Linked DNA regions of Homo sapiens. The protein of the gene in region 3 purifies or fractionates together with the protein of the main gene of each other region. This does not show direct contact. Each region holds a gene or a part of one and is shown on either strand. Other genes may lie near its edges. The genes, in order: HDLBP, TIMM21, GRK7, ZYG11B, CPVL, SLC35E1 and THUMPD3.

Region 1 (3,500 bases), on a different chromosome or scaffold from region 3:
GTGGAGTGGGGGACACAGTGGCAGTTTGGCATAGTGGGGAGGCCTTGCTGATTGAGCGACAGTTGATTCAAACTTGAGATGAGCAAACAAGCCATGGGCAGCGATCTGGGGAAGAGCGTTATAAGAGGAATGGACAGGAGGTGAAAAGCACGGGGGCAGGACTGTGTTGTGCACGTTAGAGGAATGTGGAACACCAGTTATTAGACCAGTGTGGAGCAGGACCAGAGGGTGTAGGAGACGGGCAGGTCAGGGAAGAAGCCGGGGCTCCTAGCAGTCGGATCTTGATGCCTTTGGAGAGCTGGAGCAGAGTGACCCAGTACTGGTGGTGGATCGTGGTGAAGTGACCATGGGCCACACCATTCACGACATTTCTTACTTTTCCTGTCACCTGTAGGAGGCAAGTATTGTTGTTATCACAGGTCGAGGTAGACCCTGAGGCAAAGGCTAGAGTTAGTGGTTTGGCTCCAGTTTGTGCCTTCAGCTACTTCACTGCTTCCCTAACCTGGCCTTGTCAGTCAGCCTCAGTCTACCATCTACCCAGGTCTGCATACCCCGCAAAACAGTATACACTTTGACGCTTTTCTGCAAGCACAATTACCTTTTGGGGGAGCCCTTCTCTTAAAGCAGAGTAGGTTAATGTTTGTGAATGAAACGGAACTTTGGCAGGCTGAGGTGTCTCAGGTCATCAGCTTACGTTGTCTACTGTGTGACTAATTGAGGCAAAAGATGTCCTTTTTAATAGTATTTTCTCATCACTTTTGCCTGGGTGCCCTTTAGGAATGTTATTTTTGGCATACAACTTGAGTTTCACTTAAATTTATAATTCTTTCTGTTCATTCCTACTGCTCTGTTGCCCAGATGTGGATTTTGCTTTGTCTCACAAGCGTTGCTGAAACACTGGTAGAAAGGTGGACGACGGATTGGTTGTGATTAGTTTGATCTTCACAGTACAGAAATTCAAAAGGTCAATAAGCTCAACAAGATTGCTGTCTCACTGATGATCAGAGTTGCCATTAAAATCGTATTTCCCGCACATCAGGCTGGAAAAAAGAATAAACATGATCATTTTAGTTGTCCTCAAAGGAGAAGAGGACAGGTATTCTGTAATCAGGTGTTGTGAGTGTAACTAGTTAAACTCTTTGGGAGGTGGGCAGTTTTACCTTGGCAATATCTATCAATGCATTGCCTGTCATCATATAATTCCATTTCCAATTCAATTTATCCTGTGGGGGTAGAGGCCCAAGTGAGCAGAGGATGTTCTTTCCAGCATTGTTTATAATCGCAAAAAAAAAAAAAAATTAGTTCAAGGGTCCTATCAGTAGGGGATTTATTAAGGTATGTTTACTCCACTCAACATGTAGTTGTTAACAAATGAGGTAAATTTGTATTTGGTACTCGGAAAGATGGCCATGGTGTCTTTTCAAATGAAAATAAGTGTAGCAGATGGTGAAAGAATGCATGTAAGATCCTATTTTTATTTAAATCATGTATTAAAATTATAATTAAAGTATAATTAAAATTACAGTTTTGAAGATACAGTTTAGAATATATTTTTTGGTAAAGCCTCATGGGGGGGTTGCCAGTTTTTACATTGTTTTGTTGAGTTATCTTTTAGAATATTTTTAAAGCTAAAAAATCAAGTTCCTTGGTAGACCATCACTACAGCAAGCCCACTGCAGTATTAATCTATTAATACTGTCAATGTTAATTAAACCATTATTCGTGTAGCCCCTACCCATCCCATTCCAGTCTCTCAGGAGGCTTAGCTGTATCCCAGAGACCCCAGTGCTATGACCGCAGGTCTCTCCTGGGGCAGGAAGAGGTAAGAAGTGGCTGATGTCAAAGTCAACAGTCAGCAAGTGGCGTGAGCAGTCTCGATGAATTCTTTCAAATAAGCGTTTTTCAGATCCACTCTAGGGCTTGCCTTTTCCCTCTGTTGTAGTCTCAGAAGTTCTTGAGGTAGACCTTGTGAGACCTGCAGCAGTACTTGCTGTCTTAGGTACAGAAGGCAGGATATTGATTATTTCTCCCTGACTCAACAAAGAGTTGAGATGTTTATCCAGGTTAGGATGACACTGCCCCCCTGTCCCCCCCGCCCCCCAAAAAAGAAACAAAAATGAAAGGATGGTGTCTTTGACTGTACTGGGAGTCAGGAGACCTCACTTCAATTTTGGGCTTTTCCTCGTTTTTTTTTTTTTTTTGAATAGGTTCAGAGCTACTCCCTGGACCTGTTCTTATCAGCCTTATGACTTGGGGACTTGGGATACTTTTTTTTTTTTTTTTAATTTATTGAGACAGAGTCTCTCCCTGTCACCCAGGCTGGAGTATGACAGCATGATCTCCGCTCACTGCAACTTCCGCCTCCCGGGTTCAAGCAATTCTCCTGCCTCAGCCTCCTGAGTAGCTGGGACTACAGGCATGCACAATAGTAGAGATAGGGTTTTGCCGTGTTGGCCAGGCTGGTCTCGAATTCCTGACCTCAAATGATCTGCCAGCCTCGGCCTCCCAATGAAGTGCTGTGATAATAGGCATGAGCCACTGCTCCCAGCCTGACTTGGGGTACTTTTTGACCTGTAGGATTTCAGCTCCTTTCTTTTAAAAATAAGAAAGCTGAGGCCAGGCGCAGTGGCTCACGCCTGTAGTCCCAGCACTTTGGGAGGCTGAGGCGGGCAGATCACCTGAGGTCAGGAGTTCGAGACTGGCCTGACCAACATGGAGAAGCCCCGTCTCTACTAAAAATACAAAACTAGCCGGGCGTGGTGGCTCATGCCTGTAATCCCAGCTGTGGGAGGCTGAGGCAGGAGAATTGCCTGAACCTGGGAGGCAGAGGTTGCAGTGAGCCGAGATCACGCCATTGCACTCCAGCCAGGGCAACAAGAACAAGACTCCATCTCAAAAAAAAAAAGCTGAATCTCTGAGTGGGTTTTTCATTTTTCATTTTTTTTTTTAAACAGATGCCTCAGAACCTGGGTAACTCAGTTTATCAGAAATTCAGTTTTCAAGTTTGGAAGGATAACACTTGGAGCTGGTAGTCACTCATAAAACATCTGATTTTGTGATCACGTTTAAGAATCCATGAATGATATAAAAATCCTCACCTATTAAAACTTTTTGGCCGGGCGCGGTGACTCACACCTGTCATCCCAGCACTTTGGGAGGCTGAGGTGGGTGGATCACGAGGTCAGGAGATCGAGACCATCCTGGCTAACACGGTGAGACCCCGTCTCTACTAAAAATACAAAAAATTAGTTGAGCATGGTGGCGGATGCCTGTAGTCCCAGCTACTCGGGAGGCTGAGGCAGGAGAATGGCGTGAACCCGGGAGGCGGAACTTTGCAGTGAGCCGAGATCACGCCACTGCACTCCAGCCTGGGCGACAGAGCGAGACTCCATCTCAAAAAAAAAAAAAAAAACAAATAAACAACTTTGTATTCATTGCTTCCTATATACTAGTCATCACGCTATTTATTTCTAGCAGTGGTTATCACCAGGGTGATTTTT
Region 2 (2,509 bases), on a different chromosome or scaffold from region 3:
AACACATGAGTGGTACTATATAAAATAAATAGTAAGTGTAACCCTGAGTAGAAATCTATGAATTAGGAATTGGGGAACTGTCTCTGGATGAGAATAAGAGAAACAGAAGTAATATTGTAATGGCTTACCAAATGGAAATAAATGGATAAAGTATTACTAGCATTGATCAACAATAGTTATGAAGGGAGCTTGCAGGGTAGTTAGGCTGGAAATCTCACGGGGCTAAAAGCAGAACTTCTGATAAACTCTTGCCTTGCATATAATTTCTTCATTAAGGAGGAAGAGCAAACAGTGACAGGAGAGTCTGCTCTAGAGTTAGTTGTGAAAAGAGTTCACTGATCAGGTGTGGAGGAATGACAGAGGCCTTGGAGGAAAATGACCAGAGCATTTGCAAATTCACAAATATGACGGAAGGGGATACCAGGCAGAGTCAGATAAGTGCCCTAGAATTCAGAGAAAAAGTGGGAGTAAGCCCATGGACAGAGACACCACAATCAAAGTGGATTAAAGAGGGTCTTAAAACACAGAAATTTTAACATTTAGTAGGGTACATCAGAGGGAATGAAAACAGAGATCTAGAGAGTTACACATCACATTTTCCTGTGGCTATACAGAAGAATCTCTTATTGGTACAGAGTTTTTCCTTTTGAAAAAGTAATTTAGTTTTATTTCTAATTATAAAAGCTCAGATCTGTTTTTTGTTTTTTTTTTTTGAGACGAAGTCACACTCCGTCACTCATGCTGGAGTGCAGTGACATGATCTTGGCTCACTGCAACCTCTGCCTCCTGGGTTCAAGCGCTTCTCCTGTCTCCTGAGTAGATGAGATTACAGGAGTGTGTCAACGTGCCTGGTTAATTTTTTTTTTTTTGAATTTTTAGTAGATAGGGTTTCACCATGTTGGCCAGGCTGGTCTTGAACTCCTGACCTCCAGTGATTGACCTGCCTCAGCCTCCCAAAGTGCTGGGATTATAGGCATGAGCCACCTCGCCTGGCCAAAAGCTCAGATCTTAAAGGGGCATGAGCATATTGTAAAATGGCAGGTGCATAAAAATGAATACAGAAAAAGCAAACAGTCTTAAGTCAAATGACAGGGCCATGGAGGGTGGCTAAATCCCCACCTGAGCTCAGATGCCGGGCTTCTTCAGCAAGCTACAGTTTGAGCAGGTTGTTTGAAGAGCAGGGCTGCTTTTTTGAGTTTAGGATAGCAAGTGGAACTTCTCAGCCTGTTAAATGTTGACATTTCAGTGAATCCTGAAACTGAACATTCTATAGCAAAGGAAAAAACGATTAGGAGAGAAAGCCTAAGTTAAGGCCTCATTCAGTCAAAGTGTGTTACGTCAGGGAGACGAGTGTCTGTTATATTTTCTATACTCCTTAAATGTTGGAAATTTTTATAATTAAAAACATCTAAAACAAGCAGTCAAACCAAGAAACTAACTAAATTAAGCAGGGAGATAAAGTAAAAAGGGGAGATAGATTGCCTGGAGGTCTCTCTATCCTGAATATCCCAAAATTTCAAGAACACATCAGAAATTCCTCTACAGACAGTTCTCGGGGAGAAGGAACAAACACATCAGAGGGGATACCTCACACTGAAGCCACCGCAGATAAACATGGTTCTAGACCCCTCCCAATGCACATAGCACTTACATAGATATGGAATCAGGATCTTGTAAGTGAAGGTCACTTTTTTCCAAATCCCCAGCAAATATTTCAAATAAAATAGAATTTCCTTTTTTTTTTTTTTTTTCTTTAAGGGGCCTCACACACGTATTTGAATGTCTCTCATTCACTCCCATGTTCTTTTGGCAGTCAGAAGTATCAGTGCAAGTAAGTTCTAAAGGGGATGAGGGCACTTCATGGCTGCCTTCTATGGTCCAGGCTTGTACCTCTCATCACACTGCCATCCTAACAACCCACACAACAGGGACACTTGACCACGCACCTGCTAGAAAAGGTGGGGTGGGTGCCCAGGTCTACCCAACTTGGGAGTGTGTACTTTTCCCGCTATGTACTAGGCCCTTAATTCATGAAGCGCGAAATATGAGACAGATTCCTAAAACTCACACAATTTTGAAGAATGTATTTACCATCTGGTTCCCTATGGCCCTCAACCATTTTCACATGCTTATCTCAAGTCAGATTCCAAAGTATGCGGAGGGCAGCTGCTAATGACATATTTGTTAGTTTTAATTTTATTCTGCAGACATTATGCAGTTCTATAATATAAAATGAATACAATACTAAAATCTATTTCCTTTATTTACATGGTGTAACATTTCCAATAACAAACATTTCTAATCATGAAAGATGGTGTTAAAGCAGAAATATTGTCATGATTGAGTCAATGGGAGAACATAAAATATGCTGTATTTCATAATTTTTCCGTAAGAAAATGTCTAGTTTGTTTAAATGCAACAAATACTGTATTAGATTCACTTTATAAGCCATACACTCCTTCTTGTCTTTCTTTTGAACACATTCTGGAAGGCAGCTGTGAAGAACGGA
Region 3 (4,129 bases):
GAGTAATTTGATTGTCTGAAGCCTTCTTCTCTCAACTCGTCAAAGTCATTCTCCATCCAGCTTTGTTCCATTGCTGGTGAGGAACTGCGTTCCTTTGGAGGAGGAGAGGCGCTCTGCGTTTTAGAGTTTCCAGTTTTTCTGTTCTGTTTTATCCCCATCTTTGTGGTTTTATCTACTTTTGGTCTTGATGATGGTGATGTACAGATGGGTTTTCGGTGTGGATGTCCTTTCTGTTTGTTAGTTTTCCTTCTAACAGACAGGACCCTCAGCTGCAGGTCTGTTGGAATACCCTGCCGTGTGAGGTGTCAGTGTGCCCCTGCTGGGGGGTGCCTCCCAGTTAGGCTGCTCGGGGGTCAGGGGTCAGGGACCCACTTGAGGAGGCAGTCTGCCCGTTCTCAGATCTCCAGCTGCCTGCTGGGAGAACCACTGCTCTCTTCAAAGCTGTCAGACAGGGACATTTAAGTCTGCAGAGGTTACTGCTGTCTTTTTGTTTGTCTGTGCCCTGCCCCCAGAGCTGGAGCCTACGGAGGCAGGCAGGCCTCCTTGAGCTGTGGTGGGCTCCACCCAGTTGGAGCTTCCCGGCTGCTTTGTTTACCTAAGCAAGCCTGGGCAATGGCGGGCGCCCCTCCCCCAGCCTCGCTGCCGCCTTGCAGTTTGATCTCAGACTGCTGTGCTAGCAATCAGCGAGATTCCGTGGGGAGATTCCGTGGGGTAGGACCCTCCGAGCCAGGTGAGGGATATAATCTCGTGGTGTGCCGTTCTTTAAGCCGGTCTGAAAAGCGCAATATTCGGGTGGGAGTGACCCGATTTTCCAGGTGCGTCCGTCACTCCTTTCTTTGACTTGGAAAGGGAACTCCCTGACCCCTTGCGCTTCCCAGGTGAGGCAATGCCTCGCCCTGCTTCGGCTCGCGCCCGGTGCGCGCACCCACTGGCCTGCGCCCACTGTCTGGCACTCCCTAGTGAGATGAACCCAGTACCTCAGATGGAAATGCAGAAATCACCCGTCTTCTGTGTCGCTCACGCTGGGAGCTGTAGACCGGAGCTGTTCCTATTCGGCCATCTTGGCTCCTCCTCCAGATCTTCTTAAGGATGAAAAATATGGGCTTGGATTCTTCCCATACCTCATGCTTCAAATAGCCGTTGATGACCCTGAAGCCATAGTGCTGTGTTTCGGTCAAACAACAGCCCAGAACTGAAGTTTTGTGAGGGCATAAGGCACCTAATAAAGCATAGGAGCTCTGGAGTCCTCCCAACTTCACCATTCCTTGCTGTTAGGTCCTTAAGGTGAATGCAAAGTGAAAGGAGCAACTTTCAAAGTTCTTGCTGTAGCTTCCACCCTTAGCTCTCAAACCCACTAACTAACCCAGCAAAGTCTGGGGGGCCTCAGATCAGCCCAACCCTCTGCCAGCTCCACCTTCACAGACGAGGAACCAGGGCCCCAGTGCTGTGCCTAAGACCTCCTTCAACTTAGCAGTAGCCCAGTGGAAGCTGCAGGATCCCGGATCCAGATCCAGTGTGCGTGGCAAGGCCAGCACCCCTCCCTGCCCCCAACACTGTCCACCACCATCTGCTTTGAGTCCAGCAATCTCATCCTGCCCTTTATCCTAGTTAGATACCTCAACACAAGAAACCCAGTTTTCCAGCTCAACTCACATTCTCCTAACTCTAATTCCAAGTAGTTCTTTACATTCCCTTTTATTCCTGCAACTCCCACCCCTTCCTGACTTCTGAAACTTGTCCTCTGTGCCCTCCAATATTTACACCAACAAAATTTCCTCCGTCCTCTTCCCTTCCCTACAAATTCCCTCCATTTTGTTTTCCCTAAAACCTGGTTCTCCCCCAAGGACACTGTTTCTTCTGCAACACTTCTGCTCCCCTCATCCAACTGGACCTGGCAACATGCAAGACGTCTTCATTTCTCTTCATTGCTGCTCTCCTTCCTTCCCTAAAAACACCCAGCTTTGAGTCTCATGTGACTGGACTCCAGCAGTCACTGTGTCTTCTTGCAGCCCCACAAATCACTCGCTGAGTTGCTAGCTCCCAGCTCTCCATCACTACTCTTGATAATTCTTGGTGATTTCAATACCCACATGGCTGATGCTTCTCATACCCTGGCCTCTCCATCCCCTGATCTCATCTCTTCCAGTGATGTGCTCTCCACCCCTGCCTTGACTGCCACTCACTCCAGTGGTCACACCCTTAAGCAAGACTCCTCAAGAGTAGCTTACACTAGCTGCCTCCAATTCATTGATTCTCTGTTGAACTGACTCTCATAAGGTTTTCATCCCACTACTTCATAGAAACTGCTCTTGTCAAGCATCTGCGTGACCTCCAAGTTGTTAAATTCACTGACCAATTCTCAGTCCTTATCCCACTGACCTCTCAGCAGCATTTGCCGTAGTAATCACTGTTTTCTCCTTGACACTCTTTCTTCCCTTGATATCCAGGATCCACATTCTGTCTCTCCTAATACCCCACTGCCCTCACCTCCTCAAACTCTAGGGCTCAGTCCTTAGATTTCTCTGCCCTCACCCCAGAGTGATCACACCCAGTCCTGTGGCTCTAAAGGCCATTTATATCTGGGGTGACTCCCAGTGAGTATCTCCAGCCCAGCCCTCTCCTGTGGGTTCCAGACCCATAGATCTTGTAGACTACTCAAGACCTCAGTTTGGCTGTCTCCCTGGCAGGTCAAATTTAACAGGTACAAGACTGAGCTCTTGATCTTCCCCACACCCTGCTCCTCCAGAGGATTTCCCACCCTGTTTACCAGAAATTCATCCTTCCAGTTACTCAGGCCCAAAACCTTGGAATCACCCTTGCTCCTTTTCTGTCACACCCACAATCCATCCATAAGCAAACTATCTTCCCCCTCCCCTGATTTCTCACCAGGGTTACTGCAGCAGCCTCCAGACTGGTTTTTCTGTTTTAACCCTTGCCCCTTCTGTCTGTGATCCTGTTAAAATGTCCATCTGATTGTTGAAAACTTCCAGTGGCTTTCCATCTCACTCAGAAGGAAAACCTAAGTTCTTGCAGTGATCAGTACTGCCTCACTGGTCTGCTCTGTTTCCTCTCTGAGGACATTTCCTGCTGCGGGCCCCTCACTCTGGGCCACCCACACTGACTTTCTTGCTGTTTCTCAAGCTCACCAGGATTTGAGCCAGCTGTTCCTTCTCCCTGAAGTGCTCTACCCTCAGGCAGTCACATGGCTCACGCCCTTACCTTCAGGAGGTCTTGACTCTCATCATTTTCTCAATTCAGTCTTGCCTGACCACCCTATTTAAAAGTGAAGCCTTCTCCCTGGTGTATCTCAGCACTTCCCTTCTCCTTCCCTGCTTGATTTTTCTTCACAGCACTTACCACCATCTGTGGTGGGTTGGAAAACATGGCCACAGTATTTTACAGCTACTCCTATCAACCTGGGCTAGGCTTGTGACCAGTAGAATGTGGCAGAAGTTAACGGTGTATCAGCTCCAGAGCCTGGAACTGAAGAGATCTTGCAGCTTCTGCCTTCACCCTTTTGGAAAACTGCTCTGAGGCCATCATGCTTTGAGGAAGCCCAGGAGGAAACACTGCAGAGAGGCTCAACCACCCCAGCTCTCCCAGCTGAGCTCAGCCACCCACCGATCCCCCAGCTGAATGCAACCATAAGAGTGAGTCCAGGTGAGACCAGCAAAGAGCTGCCCAATCAAAGCAAATCTGTATATTTGTGGGATAAGTGCATAGAATGAATAGACAAATGAAACATAGGCCAGAGCTTTGTGTGGATTTTAGTTAATATGACTTAGTACTCAGTACTACTTACGAATTCTCTTTTATACATCAAAGTCTTCACTTGCAATGTGCTATCAGGTAAGAGGTGTTTAAGTGTCACCAGCTGAATCTGGTGTTCCATTTTCTTTACCATAGCGTATATCAAGGGTCAGGCCCACACTGTATATGGAAATAAGGCTTTCATCTCAGTTGCAAATGACTCTAATGTTACTATTGTTTATAAAAGTTGGGGTGTTTAAATATTTTAAAGTATTCTTTAACATAACTCCCTCTACCCCACCAGTGGACATTTAACATTTACACGCTTAACTTAATTTTTTCTTTTTTTTTTTGAGATGGAGTCTCACTCTGTCGTCCA
Region 4 (3,500 bases), on a different chromosome or scaffold from region 3:
TATCCCCCACCACGATGTTAGTAGATACCTTCTGGGGAGCCTGAACTTCAACACTCATCAAGCAGCGATGAAGTTCTCTACCTGCTTCCCTGCTGGGGTGCTGTCATAGGAAGTCTAGTGGAAAGTCAGGACTTTCACAACTGCCCAACAGTAATGAGGCCACCTCCTCCCAACATGGTGTCAGTAGAAGCCAACTGGGAAGCAGAAATGACATACCCATACCCCTCTCATTTAGGGAAGTATCAATAGAATCCTAGTGGGGAGTCAGAATTCCAACCTCTGCATAGCCCTGCACCTTGGGTGTCAAGAGAAGCCAAGTGGGGAACCAGAAAGAACATTAACCCTAATCTGGCTGGGCATAGTGGCTCACACCTGTAATCCCAGCACTTTGGGAGGCCGAGGCGGATGGATCACAAGGTCAGGAGATCGAGACCATCTTGGCCAACATGGTGAAACCCCGTCTCTACTAAAACACAAAAAATTAGCCAGGCCTGATGGTGCCTGCCTGTAATCTCAGCTACTTGGGAGGCTGAAGCAGGGGAATCGCTTGATCCCAGGCGACGGAGGTTGCAGTGAGTTGAGATCGCACCATTGCACTCCGGCTTGGGCAACAAGAGCGAAACTCCACCTCAAATATAACATAACATAAAATAAAATAACAACATAACATAAAATAAAATAACAAAATAAAATAACATAAAATAACAACATAAAATAAAATAACAAAATAAAATAACATAAAATAACAAAATAAAATAAAATAACATAACGTAACAAAATAACATAACATAAAATAAAATAACAAAACAACATAAAATAACAAAATAAAATAAAATAACAACATAAAACATAACAAAATAATATAACATAAAATAACATAAAAAATAAAAATAACATAAAATAAAATAACATAAAATAAATAAAATAAAATAATTTTTTTTTTTTTGAGACGGAGTCTCGCTTTTCACCCAGGCTGGAGTGCAGTGGCGCGATCTGGGCTCACTGCAAGCTCTACCTCCCGGGTTCACACCATTCTCCCGCCTCAGCCTCTGGAGTAGCTGGGACTACAGGCACACGCTGCCATGCCCAGCTAATTTTTTGTATTTTTAGTAGAGACGGGGTTTCACCGTGTTAGCCAGGATGGTCTTGATCTCCTGACCTCGTGATCCGCCCGCCTCGGCCTCCCAAAGTGCTGGGATTACAGGCGTGAGCCACTGTGCCTGGCCTATAAAAATTTTTACAAAGAACATTAACCCCAATCTGGCAGTAACAAGGCAGTGCTCCTACCTTCCACTGCTGGAGTGACGTCAGTGACTCAAACTAAAACAGAAAAGTCTCATATCACCTAAAATGTCCTGGTTTCAATAAAAAATTACTCTGAATCATACTAAGAACCAGTAAGACTTCAAACTCAAAAAGAGATAATCAATATATGCCAACAGTAAGGTAACAGAAATGTTAAAATTATTTGACAACGATTTTAAAGGAGCCATAAAAAAATGCAATTAAATTTTCAAAAGTAAACAAATATGCTTGAAAAAAAATGAGTAACAGACCAGGCGCGGTGGCACTTTGGGAGGCCAAGGCAGGCAGATCATGAGGTCAGGAGTTCGCGACCAGCCTGACCAACATGACGAAACCCCATCTCTACTAAAAATACAAAAATTAGCTGGGCATGGTGGCACACGCCTGTAGTCCCAGCTACCCAGGAGGTTGAGACAGAAGAATCACTTGAACCTGGGAGACAGGGGTTGCAGTGAGCCAAGATCGCACCACTGCACTCCAGCCTGGGCGACACAGCAAGATTCTCCATCTCAAAAAAAAAAAAAAAATTTAAAAAAAATTTAATAAGGAAAAAAAGAAAAAAATGAAAACAGACTCAGCAAGGCAAGAGAAGATATAAAGAAGAATCAAATAAAAATTTTAGAAGTGAAAAATATAATAATGCTTGAGGTCAACAGTAAAATAGAGAACAGAGAAAAAAGACTGGTGAACTAGAAGATAAAACAACATAAATTACCTAATTTAAATAACAAGAACAGAATGGGAAAAAAACCAAAACCAAAAACCTAAAGCTATATTTGTGTCACTGGAATATCTCAAGGACAGGAGAAAGACAGTGTGGCTGAAAAAGTACTTAAAGAAATAATGAGCAGGCACAGTGGCTCATGCTTATAATCCCAGTACTTTGGGAGGATGAGACAAGAGGATTACCCGAGGCCAGGAGTTTGAGACCAGCCTGGGCAACATTGCAAGACTCCATCCCAACAACAAAAAATTTTAATTAGTCGGGCATGGTGGTACATACCTGTAGTCCTAGCTAGCTAGTCGGGAGGCTGAGGTCGAAGGGTCGCTTGAGCCCAGGAGTTTGAGATTATAGTAAGCTATGATTGCACTCTAGCTTGGGTGACAGAGTAAGACCCTGACTGGGAAAAAACAAAAAACAAAAAACAAAAAACTGAGTGTGGTGGCTCATTCCTGTAATTGGGAGGCTGAGGTGGGAGGACTGCTTTGAGCCCAGGGGTTCAAGACCAGCCTGCACAACATAGAAAGACATCATCTCCATTACAAATTTTTAAAAATTAGTCAGATGTTGGTGGCATGCACCTGTGATCTCAGCTACTTAGGAGGCTGAGGCAGGAGGACTGCTTGAGTCCAGGAGTTCAAGGCTGCAGTGAGCTATGATCATGCCACTACACTCCAGCCTGGGAAACAGAATCAGACCTTGTCTCAAAAAATAATTTTTTTTAATTAAAAAAAAAGATAGGCTGGATGTGGTGGCTCACGCCTATAATCCTAGCACTTTGGGAGGCCAAGGCAGGAGGACTCCTTGAGGCCAGGGGTTCAAGACCAACCTGGCCAACATAGTGCGACTCCATCTCTATTAAAAAAAAAAAAAAGATCACTCAGAAAAATTGGAAGCAGTGGTTTACATGGAGTTAAGGGAATTTTATCTGATGGCTTCAATTTTCTTCCTAAGATAAATGGTAGAAAGTCTGAGAAGAGCAAAGAACATCTGAAACTACTGTTAGGAACACTAGTTTACTGGGGAAATACTCCAGAACTCCTGGGCAGTGCCGAGGAGCCCGCCTTTATGTTACTGACTTCCCTCCTTGTCATTCAGGTCTCAGTCTAGTATCACCACTTTAGAAGCTTTCTCTGATCATCCAAGTTAAAACATCTCCCTTCCTTTATTATTCTTCTTAAGAGAACAGTGTTCTTTTTCCCTCAGAGAACCTGGCACAAGCTGTAATTCTATATGTTTACTTCCTAATTGTGTCTCCCACTGGACTATACGCTCCATGAAAGCAAGATTCATGTTGCATTCATTGTCTTATTTAAATATTCACAGTAATCCCTGTGAGGGAGTTATAATTATCAACACTTTACAGATGAGGAATCTTAGACTTGCAGAGTAACTTATCCAGGGTCAAAGAGCAAATTAATGTTGGAACCAGGACTCAGACCTAGGACCGATTTATAGAACTCATGCTCTTTTC
Region 5 (3,500 bases), on a different chromosome or scaffold from region 3:
TTCATTCTCCTCTGCATTTTCATGTTTCCATTACGGATAATTTTCCTTCTGTCTGAAGAACAGTCTTTCGTACTTCTTTTAGTGCAGGTCTGCTGACAAAAACCTTTTCCAATTTTTTGTTTCCTTGAAAATATCTTTACAAGGTCTTCATTTCTATACAAGTTCTAGGTTGGCAGATATTTTATTTAAGAACTTTCAAGATATTATTTCACTGTCTTCCAGCTTTCATTGTTTCTGTTGAATAGTCAGTTTTCTTGCTGCTTTGAAGGTACTGAAAGTACTGTTTCCTTTTCTGTGACAGCTTTTAAGATTTTCTCTGTCTTTGCTTTTAGCAAAATGCTATTCTCTCTGTGTGTGTGTGTGTGTGTGTGTGTGTGTGTGTGCACATACACATACTATAGTGTAATATACTATTACTAATATACTATTATGTGTACTATGATGTGGTTAGTTTGCTTTGTGTTTATTCTATCTAGGATTCATAGAGCTTCTCAAAACTGGCTTGGTAACTTTTGTCAATTTTGGAAATTTTTCAGTCAGTATCTCTGAATGTTACTATTTGTTTCTTTTGCCCCATTTCTTCCTTATCATTTTATCCTAAAATTCCAGTTAAACATAAGTTAAATGTTTCATGGTTTCATGTCGTCTTCTTCTTCTTTTTTTTTTTTTTTGAATTTTCATACCTTTATTCTCCATGCTTCAGTCTGGATATCCTCTACTGACCTAACTTCCAGTTCATATAGTGTTTCTTCTGCATGCCTAATCTATTGCTAAAACATCGATCGAGTTCTTAATTTCAATGAACAATGAATGAGTAACTTTTTAGTTAAAGAACTTCCATTTGATTCTCTTGTATATATTCTAATTATCTTGTGAATTATTTTTCTATACCTAACATCTTGCATATTTTGTTCACAGTTACTTTAAAATGTGTACCTGGTAACTCTAATATCTGGATCATTTGTGGTCTCTGTTATCTTTTTTTCTCCTTAAATTTTAGTCATTGCTCTTGTTCTTTGTCATGCCTATTAAATTTTATTAAATGTTGAAGAAAATGTACAAAAAATATATGAAGAAAAATGTTATTTTTCTTCCAAAAGGATTTAATTTTTTCTAGAAGGCATACAGAGTAGAGGCATATCACCTTGATAAAGTTTGGGATTGAGACGATTGATTCAGTGCTTGATTTCAAGGTTTGTGAGGACTAACCTGTTTCTGGTTTGTTATTACTTCCAAGGCATTGTCTTTCACGGATCTGATGGAAAGCCTGCAGTGCTTACCAGTGCTGTCCCTCCTTGACAGGCTTGCAACTCCAATTTTTTGTTGTTGTTGTTTCTTTTGGGGTTTTCTTTGTTTTTGTTTTTTGGTCTCTCAAGCACCGTAAGACTAATGAGCTTTTCATTCTCTTATCTGCCGCTTTTGACTTGGCGTCTTGGTCAGAGAAGCTTAAAAATTGGTGAATTTCCCAAAGGGAAAAGCAGCACAAAATGTTAGGCTCACTTCCTTGTGATTCCCTTTTCTCTACGATCATGGCCTCTCTCAAGGCTTGGTTGCTCTCTGATACCTTTAAACAGCTTATTTTCTTTTTAATTCAGCTTCTATTGTTTTCTGTGGAATAAGATTGGTTTGGTACATGCTATTGTGTCACAGTCAGAAGTGGAAGTCCTAAATTACAAACAGTATTGTTGCAACTGATTAAGATGGTGTACATAGGAAGCCCCTTGGGGATGTTGTAAAGGAGCACCAAAAGTTTTAACTGCTCTAGAATATGTACCATTATGATGGCTACATGTGGGTCTCCTGAAGCACCTAGAAGCTCCTTTTCTCATTCTATTCAATAACCATTTGCTACACCAGAGGTGTACAGTGGGAGACCTCAAGAATCGTTTCCCTGAGTGCTGTTGAAGCAACTCCCAGCCTTGATCTCTGCTGTTTTTTCATTCTTTCGAAAGTGACTTATTGCATTCTTTGTTAGGAAGTGTCTGCTAACAAGCTTTGGCTTGTTTTTTATTCTCGTTCCCAAGTACCTTTTCAATATATTTTTATTTGAATGCTATTTACGTTATTTCTACTTATAGTTAGTGTCTGAAAGCAAACTAAAAGATAAGATTTAGTAAATGTGGAATGGCATAAAAGTAGTGAAAAGAACTTACATGTAAATCAGAAACCACAACAAGCAGATTCTCTTGAGGGTATGCATCTTTCTATACTGGAAAGCAGAAACAATAAACCAATCCTACATATTCTGCCTGCCAAACTTGCAGCTCCCATGTGGCTCTTTTCTCTTTCCTGGTGAGTAGCACCACCTTTGCAAATCTGCCCATGTCAGAAGCCTGAAATGGGGAGGATTTGTTGGGGATGGGTAGAGAAAGTCTCACTTAACCTTTATATCGGATTAATCACTGATTTTATTGGTTCCATCTTACTACCCTCTTCTCCTTCCCCTTCTCCCCATCCCTCCCATGAGCCCACATCCTCTCACCTGATTTGGTAGTCTCCTAATTTGCCTCCTTGTACCAGTATGACTCCCTTCCAAATTAGCCTTCTCCTTAGACATTAAGTCATTTTTCTACAATGCAAACATAAGCATGTCACTACCCTACTTAAAACCCTCTAGGATATATCCAGAATAGGCAAGTCTATAGAGACAGAAAGCAGATTAATGGTTGCCAGGGGCTGATGGGGAGAGGGGGAGTGGGAAGTGATTACTGATGTATATGGGTTTCCTTTGGGGTGGTGAAAATATTCTGCAACAAGATAGTGTGAATATACTAAATGCTACCGAATCATACGCTTTAAAATGGTTAAAGTGGTAATTTTATGTTAAGTGTATTTTACCACAGTTGCTTTTAAAGCCCGATAGGATAAGGTCCACTCATCCCAGCATGTCACTTGGGGCATCACATGGTCCCACTAGCGTTTGCCTGTTCATCTGTCTCTTCTGTTTCCCTCTATTCCTGCATGAATGGGACGACATACAGACTGCTGCATGCGCCCGCAGCTTCACGGCCCCTGCATTTCCACACAGAATTTCCTTTGTCTGCGGTGATCCCTCTGCTGCACGTGCCCACAGTTTCATGCCCCTGCATTTCCATGCCTCCTGCATTTCCACGCCTCCTGCATTTCCACACACAGTTTCCTCTGTCTGCGGTGATCCCTCCACCCCCACCCCACCCACCCACCACTCTCCGTCCAGTGATCTCCTTCAAGACCCCCAAGAAGCTTCCCCTGACACATCTACATCAACAAGCCCACTGTGAACTTCCCTCTCTTTTCTGTCATCTAAACAGGCACAACTGGGAAACCTTTACTGGCAGGTCTTTGTTTCTAGTTCCAGGGAGAATTATATTGTTTTCTAAAAAATAAAGTGGAATGAAGCTTTAAAGTGTTTGTATAACCCTGTTGAAATTCATGACACATTTGTGACCCCCTGGAACATCTGGAACACATGAAGTTAGAGGCTGCAGCTCTAGTGTGGAGGCACCCAAAATAGACAGTTC
Region 6 (3,039 bases), on a different chromosome or scaffold from region 3:
ACCTTCCGGTCTCTGCAGACCTACGTCTACCAGTGGCCCTGGACGCTCCTGCTCCTGGCTGTCAGCGGCTTCTGTAACTTTGCCCAGAATGTTATCGCCTTCAGCATCCTCAACCTCGTTAGCCCCCTGAGCTACTCGGTCGCCAATGCCACCAAAAGAATCATGGTCATCACGGTGTCCCTGATCATGCTGCGCAACCCAGTCACCAGCACCAACGTCCTGGGCATGATGACCGCCATCCTGGGGGTCTTCCTCTATAACAAGGTGAGAGTCTGAGAGGCTGGGCAGGGAAGGAAGCCGGCCCCCCAACACCCAGGAAGTCAGAAAAGGAAGGGCCTCCCGGGCGCTCAAGGCTGGGGTTGTATGTCAGAGCTTTGCCACTGACTGGTTTATGATCTTGGCGTAGCCCCATCCCACTCTGGCTTCCTTTTTCCTGCATAGGCAACCTCAGGTCCTCAAATCATTCCGGCTGTGTCTCAGCTGGGGTTTTCCCTCCCTCCTCTCAAAGGCTCTGTTTAGTGCGGTGTAAGGACATGGGATGGCCAACAGGGAGGGCTTGCCTTCTTTTCCTTTTCTTTTTTTTTTTTTTTTTTTTCGAGATGGAGTCTGGCTCTGTCACCCAGGCTGGATTGCAGTGGCGCTCCATCCCAGCTTACTGCAACCTCCGCCTCCCGGGGTCAAGCGATTCTCCTGCCTCAGCCTCCCGAGTAGCTGGGACTACAGGCGCCTACCACACCTGGCTAATTTTTGTATTTTTAGTAGAGATGGGGTTTCACCATCTTGGCCAGGCCAGCCTCCAACTCCTGACCTCAGTTGATCCACCTGCCTTGGCCTCCCAAAGTGTAGGGATTACAGGCATGAGCCACCACACCTGGCCTCTTCATTTGTTTCTTAACACATGTAGATATGGGGTCTCTCTATTTTGTCCAGTCTGGTCTCCAACTCCTAGCCTCAAGTGATCCTCCCGCCTAGGCCTCCCAAAGCACTTGAACTACAGGCATAAGCCACTGCGCCTGGCCAAGGACTTGTCTTCTGAGTCTGTCCATGCACTGTGGTCTGGTCCATTCAAGTCTGCTTTCCTTGCTCAAGCCCTATGACTTATGCCGGCCCCGGAGGTTAACTGACTTTTTTTTTTTTTTTTTTTTTTTCTGAGACAGCGTCTTGCTCTGTCTCCCAGGCTGGAGTGCAGTGGTATGGTCCCAGCTCACTGCAACCTCCGCCTCCTGGGTTCAAGTGATTCTTGTGCCTCAGAACGCCTGAGTAGCTGGAACTACAGCATGCGCCACCACACCCGGTTAATTTTTTGTATTTTTAGTAGAGACGGGGTTTTGCCATGTTGCCCAGGCTGGTCTCAAACTCCTGAGCTCAGGTGATCCTCCCGCCTCGACCTCCCAAAGTGCTGGGATTACAGGTGTGAGCCACCGCAGCCAGCCAGTTGATTGACTTTGAATTACGAGCTCTTATGCCCCGGGCATGTCCTGTCTCATTGCTCTCTTTCTGGCACAGACCAAGTACGATGCAAACCAGCAAGCCAGGAAGCACCTCCTCCCCGTCACCACAGCAGACCTGAGCAGCAAGGAGCGTCACCGGAGCCCACTGGAGAAGCCCCACAACGGCCTCCTCTTCCCCCAGCACGGGGACTATCAGTACGGCCGCAACAACATCTTAACAGACCACTTCCAATACAGCCGGCAGAGCTACCCAAACTCGTACAGTTTGAACCGCTATGATGTGTAGAGTCCAAAGGACAGGACCAGACTGTTGGTGACTCCTTCCCCGGCCCCCACAGCAGTATCAGAAACTTCTGACAATCAGTGAATGTACAACCCAGCCGAGGGGACGGTGCATAACTCTCCATCAGAAGCCCTGGGGTTCCTGGCCCCCCGTGAGCCGCAGGAGGATGCGTTGCCTGCAGTGCAGACGGCCGTGAGCTCTGGGCAAACCTAAACAGAGACCAGTGTCTCATGCTCTTTCTTCCTGGAGTCTGTCATCTGAGGGCCGTGTCCCTGCGGAGATCTTGGCCACGTTGTACCTTTCCATGTGGAATTATTCCCCAAGCAGTGTAGCTCAGAGCACTTGTGTCTGCATTCCAGATAACATTCAGGACCTGTGTGAAAAGCTGGGGTCACTGTGGCTGTAGACCATGAACTGGCAGTGGGGGTGTCCAGGGCGGTGCTTGAGAACGTCAGACTGGCTAGTTTAATTCCCTGGCGCAGATACGCATAGGACCAACAGGGTCACCAAGCAGACAGGGAGCCCGCGAGAATCATTCAAAACATCCCCAGCCACAGAGATGGATCCAGTTTCCTGGTCATCCCCTTAGCAGTTCACAAGTTCCTGGCAAATGTTCCAAAGCAAAAAGCGATTGCAATTAGCATCCAGTTCCTGCAGCCTGGTGCTCTGCCCTGCACGTCAGGGTTGGCATCCACCCAGATCCAGATGGAAGGGAAACTTCTCTCTTCTCCTTTGCCTCCTCTTCCCTCACCAGAGCAGGGCGCTTCTCTTGGGGTGGTGAGAAGGATCTTCGAGAAATCGTGTTCAGTATTTCAAGCTCTATTTCTGTGGCACATGTCTTTTGAGAGGCATCTTCACCTCTTCTGTGATGACTTGGTATGTTGTTTGGTAGAGAGATCTTGATTTTCGGAGGATCTTGCATTTTTCTAGGGAATATTTTGTAGTTGTGTGTGTGTGTTTTTGCCTTGGTCCCCATTATGGGATGCATTAGGACTGGCCTATGCATCGAAAATCTTTTTGTTTGTAAACGTTTAAAAACAAAGTTCCCCGGCCAGGCACAGTGGCTCACACCTGTAATCCCAGCACTTTGGGAGGCCAAGATGGGCGGATCACGAGGTCAGGAGTTCGAGACCAGCCTGGCCAACATAGTGAAACCCCATCTCTACTAAAAATACAGAAATTAGCCGGGCATGGTGTCGCGTGCCTGTAGTCCCAGCTCCTCAGGCTGCTGAGGCAGGCGAATTGCTTGAACCTGGGAGGCAGAAGTTGTGGTGAGCCGAGATTGTGCACTCCAGCCTGGGTAAC
Region 7 (3,500 bases), about 130 Mb from region 3:
CTTGAATTATATATCCTACACAAAAAGGTGGTAGAAGACTTGGTTCTCATTCTGTTTCTCAGCATAAATGATTCTTTTTTTTTTTTTGGAGACAGAGCCCTGCTCTGTTGCCCAGGCTGGAGTGCAGTGGTATGATCTCGGCTCACTGTAACCTCTGCCTCCCGGGTTCAAGCGATTCTCCTGCCTCACCCTCCTGAGTAGCTCGGATTTCAGGCACATGCCATCATGCCCAGCTTATTTTTGTATTTTTAAAAGACAGGGTTTCACCATATTGGCCAGGCTGGTCTCAAACTCCTGACTTCAGGTGATCTGCCCGCCTCAGCCTCCCAAACTGCTGGGATTACAGGCATGAGCCACCAAAACACCTGGCCTAAATGATTTCTAATCACTTGTTTGGTTTATACAGTTTGACTGCTTATTATACTAAGAGGACAAGTCATATAACTAACACAGTTGTCTAAAAAAAATTTTTTTGATTCAGAATTCTAAGCAGTTTACTAACTCAACTTATTTCATAGACATGTAATGGCAAAGGTCTGGTTTCTAAAACTACAGCTATTTTTCATGCCTCAGGATGCATGAAACTGTTTTTGTTTCATATAGTCCTTCTATTTTGTATCTTTTGCAAGTGTTTGACTCATGAGACCTTCTATTATAGGATGGGATCCAAGAAGAGAAACTGGAACCTTTATCCAGCTTGCCTACGGGAGATGAGCCGTGTCTGCACACCTACCACAGGCCGAGCTGTACTACTTACTCAAGACACAAAATGCTTTACCAAGGTGCTATACACATTAGCTCAAAATCGCAGCCTGTGGCAACTTTGGGATCTTTTTGAGATTTGGGGATGTTTGTTTGGATAAGATTTGTTTTCTCTTCCCCTGAGGTTTCCTATCTTGGCAGTTAAGAATCCTAGTTGATGTAAAAGTAGATTGTCAACCTAATTGTTATTTTTTTTGTGTGTACACAGGCGTTATCTGGAATGCGACACGTATGGCGAAAGGTGGATACAGTCTGGGTGAACGTTGGTGGTCTTCGTGCTGCAGTTTACGTTCTGATACGTACACCTCAAGCTTTTGTTCATCCTTCAGAACAAGACGGAGAAAGAGGAACTCTTTGGCAATGCAAAGAATGAAGATGACTAATAGTACTTGTACTTCCCACCACTGGAAATGTTAGCATAAAAGAACTTGGAGAGGAAAAAAGTATTAACAAAACTGCAGTCTGCACTCTTTAAACCTGTTTAAGGCTCTTCATCCTGGTTAGCAAAAGGTGTGAATGTAATGTGATGGAATTTAAAAGTTTTATGAGACCAGGCACAGTGGCTCACGACTGTAATTCCAGCAGTTTAGGAAGCCGAAGTGTGCAGATCACCTGAGGTCCGGAGACCAGCCTGGCCAACATGGTGAAACCCTGTCTCTACTAGAAATACAAAAATTAGCCAGGTGTGGTGGCGGGCGCCTGTAATCCCAACTACTCAGGAGGCTGAGGCTAGAGAATCACTTGAACCCAGCAGGCGGAGGTTGCGGTGAGTCGAGATCACGCCATTGCACTCCAGCCTGTGCGACAAGAGCGAAACTCTGTCTCAAAAAGATTTTATAAGAAAGCAGAGCTTTTCCTTGAAGCTCTTTTGAAGTGGTAGCTTAATTAGTATTTTGTTGAAAATACTTTAAAGATGCCTAGTGAAAAGCCTACTAAAGTGCTGTGAGATTGGGGTTTAGAACATTTTATTTTCAGGCTTTATGGCCTATTTTCCATTGTGTCAAGTGCAAAACTACCCTGGCCCAAAGGAAGGGCAGAGAACATAATTACATCTTAGGCCACATTTCATTCTTTGCAGCTTTGCTAATCCAGTTGCTCAAGTTCTTTACCTCAACCTGAAGGAATGAAGCATTATTACATTTTGTGAATGGTGTTCAGCCTATAAGACGAAGTCTCACAAGACCTATAGGAAAGTTTACCATCTGCCTTAAATATTAAAATATCCATCTGTTATTCACATTAATACACAGAATGAAAATAGAGGTCTAGGAATTATCAAAGGTACTGCAAAAATACTGTATAGAACTTATTTGTAAATAGCACATACATTGATAGATGGGGTGTGGGACCAACAAACCAAATTAAAAGAAATTGTTTTTCTTTCAGTACACTAAGGTGTGTGTTTTCAAAACCAAACACAAACCTGTCAAGAGTATTTGTTGGCTAGTTTCTTAAAAGGCCAAGAGAAAAAAAATGATATATCTTTGGAAAACTTTTAATTTGGGAGTTATGTGAGTTGTTACTTTCTCCTGGATCACGATTCACATTTAATTGCTTTTCCAGTTGCAACAAGTCCTTCTTGAGAGTTTTGTGGAAAATGGTGCTTCCCTGGAACAAAGAGTAGTTGAGGTTTTTTTGTGGAACTCATCATAGTATTGTTTATTTTGGAGCCTCTGGCTGCAATCAGTATAGATTTTCAGTATCCTATTAGTATTATAATAGTACTCCTCTTAATACTTTCTGATGTCTCCATTGAGAATAAAAGGACACAATACTTTTGAAAGAAGAGTTCACATTAGCAGCACAGCCAGCAATCCTCATCTGGTTTCTCTGATCTCCTACCCCACACTTCATAATGAATGGGAAATAAGATGTTTATGAAGGTTTTATATCCTAGACTGGCCTTTTTACCACTATCAGAATTCACAGCTGCTTTGTTTATGGGCCGAACACAAAACTTTTCACCTGATGGGAGAAACCATTTAAACCTCAAATTAAGCAACCCACAGAACCAGGAAGTTCAAGGACCATGTCTGTTTTCACCACGATGTCTTTCCCCACCCCCCCACCCCCCACTCCACCCCCCACTAAGGGCAGGGTATTGTATCTGCCAGACTGGGTATTTGTTGAACAAGCGAGTATTTTCGCCTATTAGCTTAGTTTTTAAGGAAATCATTTTTTACTTGATTCATCATAGCTTTAATTCTATTACATACTACAATAAAAATTTGACAAGACTGATACAAATATGTAGTGGGCAATAGTTTGCCGTCTTCTTCCCTAGTATGGTGTTTTTCAATCTGGTGACTAGAATAGGCAGTGGGCTATAAGCAGGATTCATAAGGCCTGGAGCTGAGTTATATGTGACACTGCCACCTATTCATTGTGTGACCTTGGTTTTAACCTTCAAAGTGGGTCTCCTGGACTAAAAGAATGTGAAAAGATGGGGAAATAAATCTGTAATCTGAACATGGAATGACTTAGTTACAGACCAGACATATTGTTACTGGGAATGAAAAAGTCAATATATTTGAGGGGAAAAAAATGTAAATAAATATTGAGAAAGATTTTACAAATCTAATTAGGGGAAGATAGTTATCTCCCAATACTAGAGGGTACCAGAGTGCTTTTAAGGGGAACATTTGGTTACCCTTATTTCTTTAAAAAATGGCAGTTTAGGAAATTCTGCCCTAACTGTAGTCCCAATGTCAGATAGGACTCAGGTCTCCACTGCAAGG

The links.
Region 1: the proteins of GRK7 (region 3) and HDLBP purify together in Homo sapiens (affinity purification with mass spectrometry; one large-scale study listed by BioGRID and IntAct). This does not show direct contact.
Region 2: the proteins of GRK7 (region 3) and TIMM21 purify together in Homo sapiens (affinity purification with mass spectrometry; one large-scale study listed by BioGRID and IntAct). This does not show direct contact.
Region 4: the proteins of GRK7 (region 3) and ZYG11B purify together in Homo sapiens (affinity purification with mass spectrometry; one large-scale study listed by BioGRID and IntAct). This does not show direct contact.
Region 5: the proteins of GRK7 (region 3) and CPVL purify together in Homo sapiens (affinity purification with mass spectrometry; one large-scale study listed by BioGRID and IntAct). This does not show direct contact.
Region 6: the proteins of GRK7 (region 3) and SLC35E1 purify together in Homo sapiens (affinity purification with mass spectrometry; one large-scale study listed by BioGRID and IntAct). This does not show direct contact.
Region 7: the proteins of GRK7 (region 3) and THUMPD3 purify together in Homo sapiens (affinity purification with mass spectrometry; one large-scale study listed by BioGRID and IntAct). This does not show direct contact.

What each region holds. Positions count from the first base shown.
Region 1 is NC_000002.12:241,305,673-241,309,172, reverse strand, and holds part of HDLBP (vigilin), read left to right. Parts: intron 1-3,500. UniProt on the Homo sapiens protein: Appears to play a role in cell sterol metabolism. It may function to protect cells from over-accumulation of cholesterol.
Region 2 is NC_000018.10:74,158,523-74,161,031, reverse strand, and holds the end of TIMM21 (mitochondrial import inner membrane translocase subunit Tim21 precursor), read right to left. Parts: 3' UTR 501-2,509; downstream 1-500. UniProt on the Homo sapiens protein: Participates in the translocation of transit peptide-containing proteins across the mitochondrial inner membrane.
Region 3 is NC_000003.12:141,762,079-141,766,207, forward strand, and holds the start of GRK7 (rhodopsin kinase GRK7), read left to right. Parts: upstream 1-1,329; 5' UTR 1,330-3,660; intron 3,661-4,129. UniProt on the Homo sapiens protein: Retina-specific kinase involved in the shutoff of the photoresponse and adaptation to changing light conditions via cone opsin phosphorylation, including rhodopsin (RHO).
Region 4 is NC_000001.11:52,764,453-52,767,952, reverse strand, and holds part of ZYG11B (protein zyg-11 homolog B), read right to left. Parts: intron 1-3,500. UniProt on the Homo sapiens protein: Serves as substrate adapter subunit in the E3 ubiquitin ligase complex ZYG11B-CUL2-Elongin BC. Acts to target substrates bearing N-terminal degrons for proteasomal degradation with the first four residues of substrates being the key recognition elements.
Region 5 is NC_000007.14:29,000,038-29,003,537, reverse strand, and holds part of CPVL (probable serine carboxypeptidase CPVL isoform b precursor), read left to right. Parts: intron 1-2,153; exon of another isoform or gene 2,154-2,209; intron 2,210-2,482; exon of another isoform or gene 2,483-2,569; intron 2,570-3,500. UniProt on the Homo sapiens protein: May be involved in the digestion of phagocytosed particles in the lysosome, participation in an inflammatory protease cascade, and trimming of peptides for antigen presentation.
Region 6 is NC_000019.10:16,552,377-16,555,415, reverse strand, and holds part of SLC35E1 (solute carrier family 35 member E1), read left to right. Parts: intron 1-18; coding exon 19-264; intron 265-1,506; coding exon 1,507-1,737; 3' UTR 1,738-3,039. UniProt on the Homo sapiens protein: Putative transporter.
Region 7 is NC_000003.12:9,383,554-9,387,053, forward strand, and holds the end of THUMPD3 (tRNA (guanine(6)-N(2))-methyltransferase THUMP3), read left to right. Parts: intron 1-658; coding exon 659-782; intron 783-970; coding exon 971-1,135; coding exon of another isoform or gene 1,136-1,179; 3' UTR 1,180-3,238; downstream 3,239-3,500. UniProt on the Homo sapiens protein: Catalytic subunit of the THUMPD3-TRM112 methyltransferase complex, that specifically mediates the S-adenosyl-L-methionine-dependent N(2)-methylation of guanosine nucleotide at position 6 (m2G6) in tRNAs.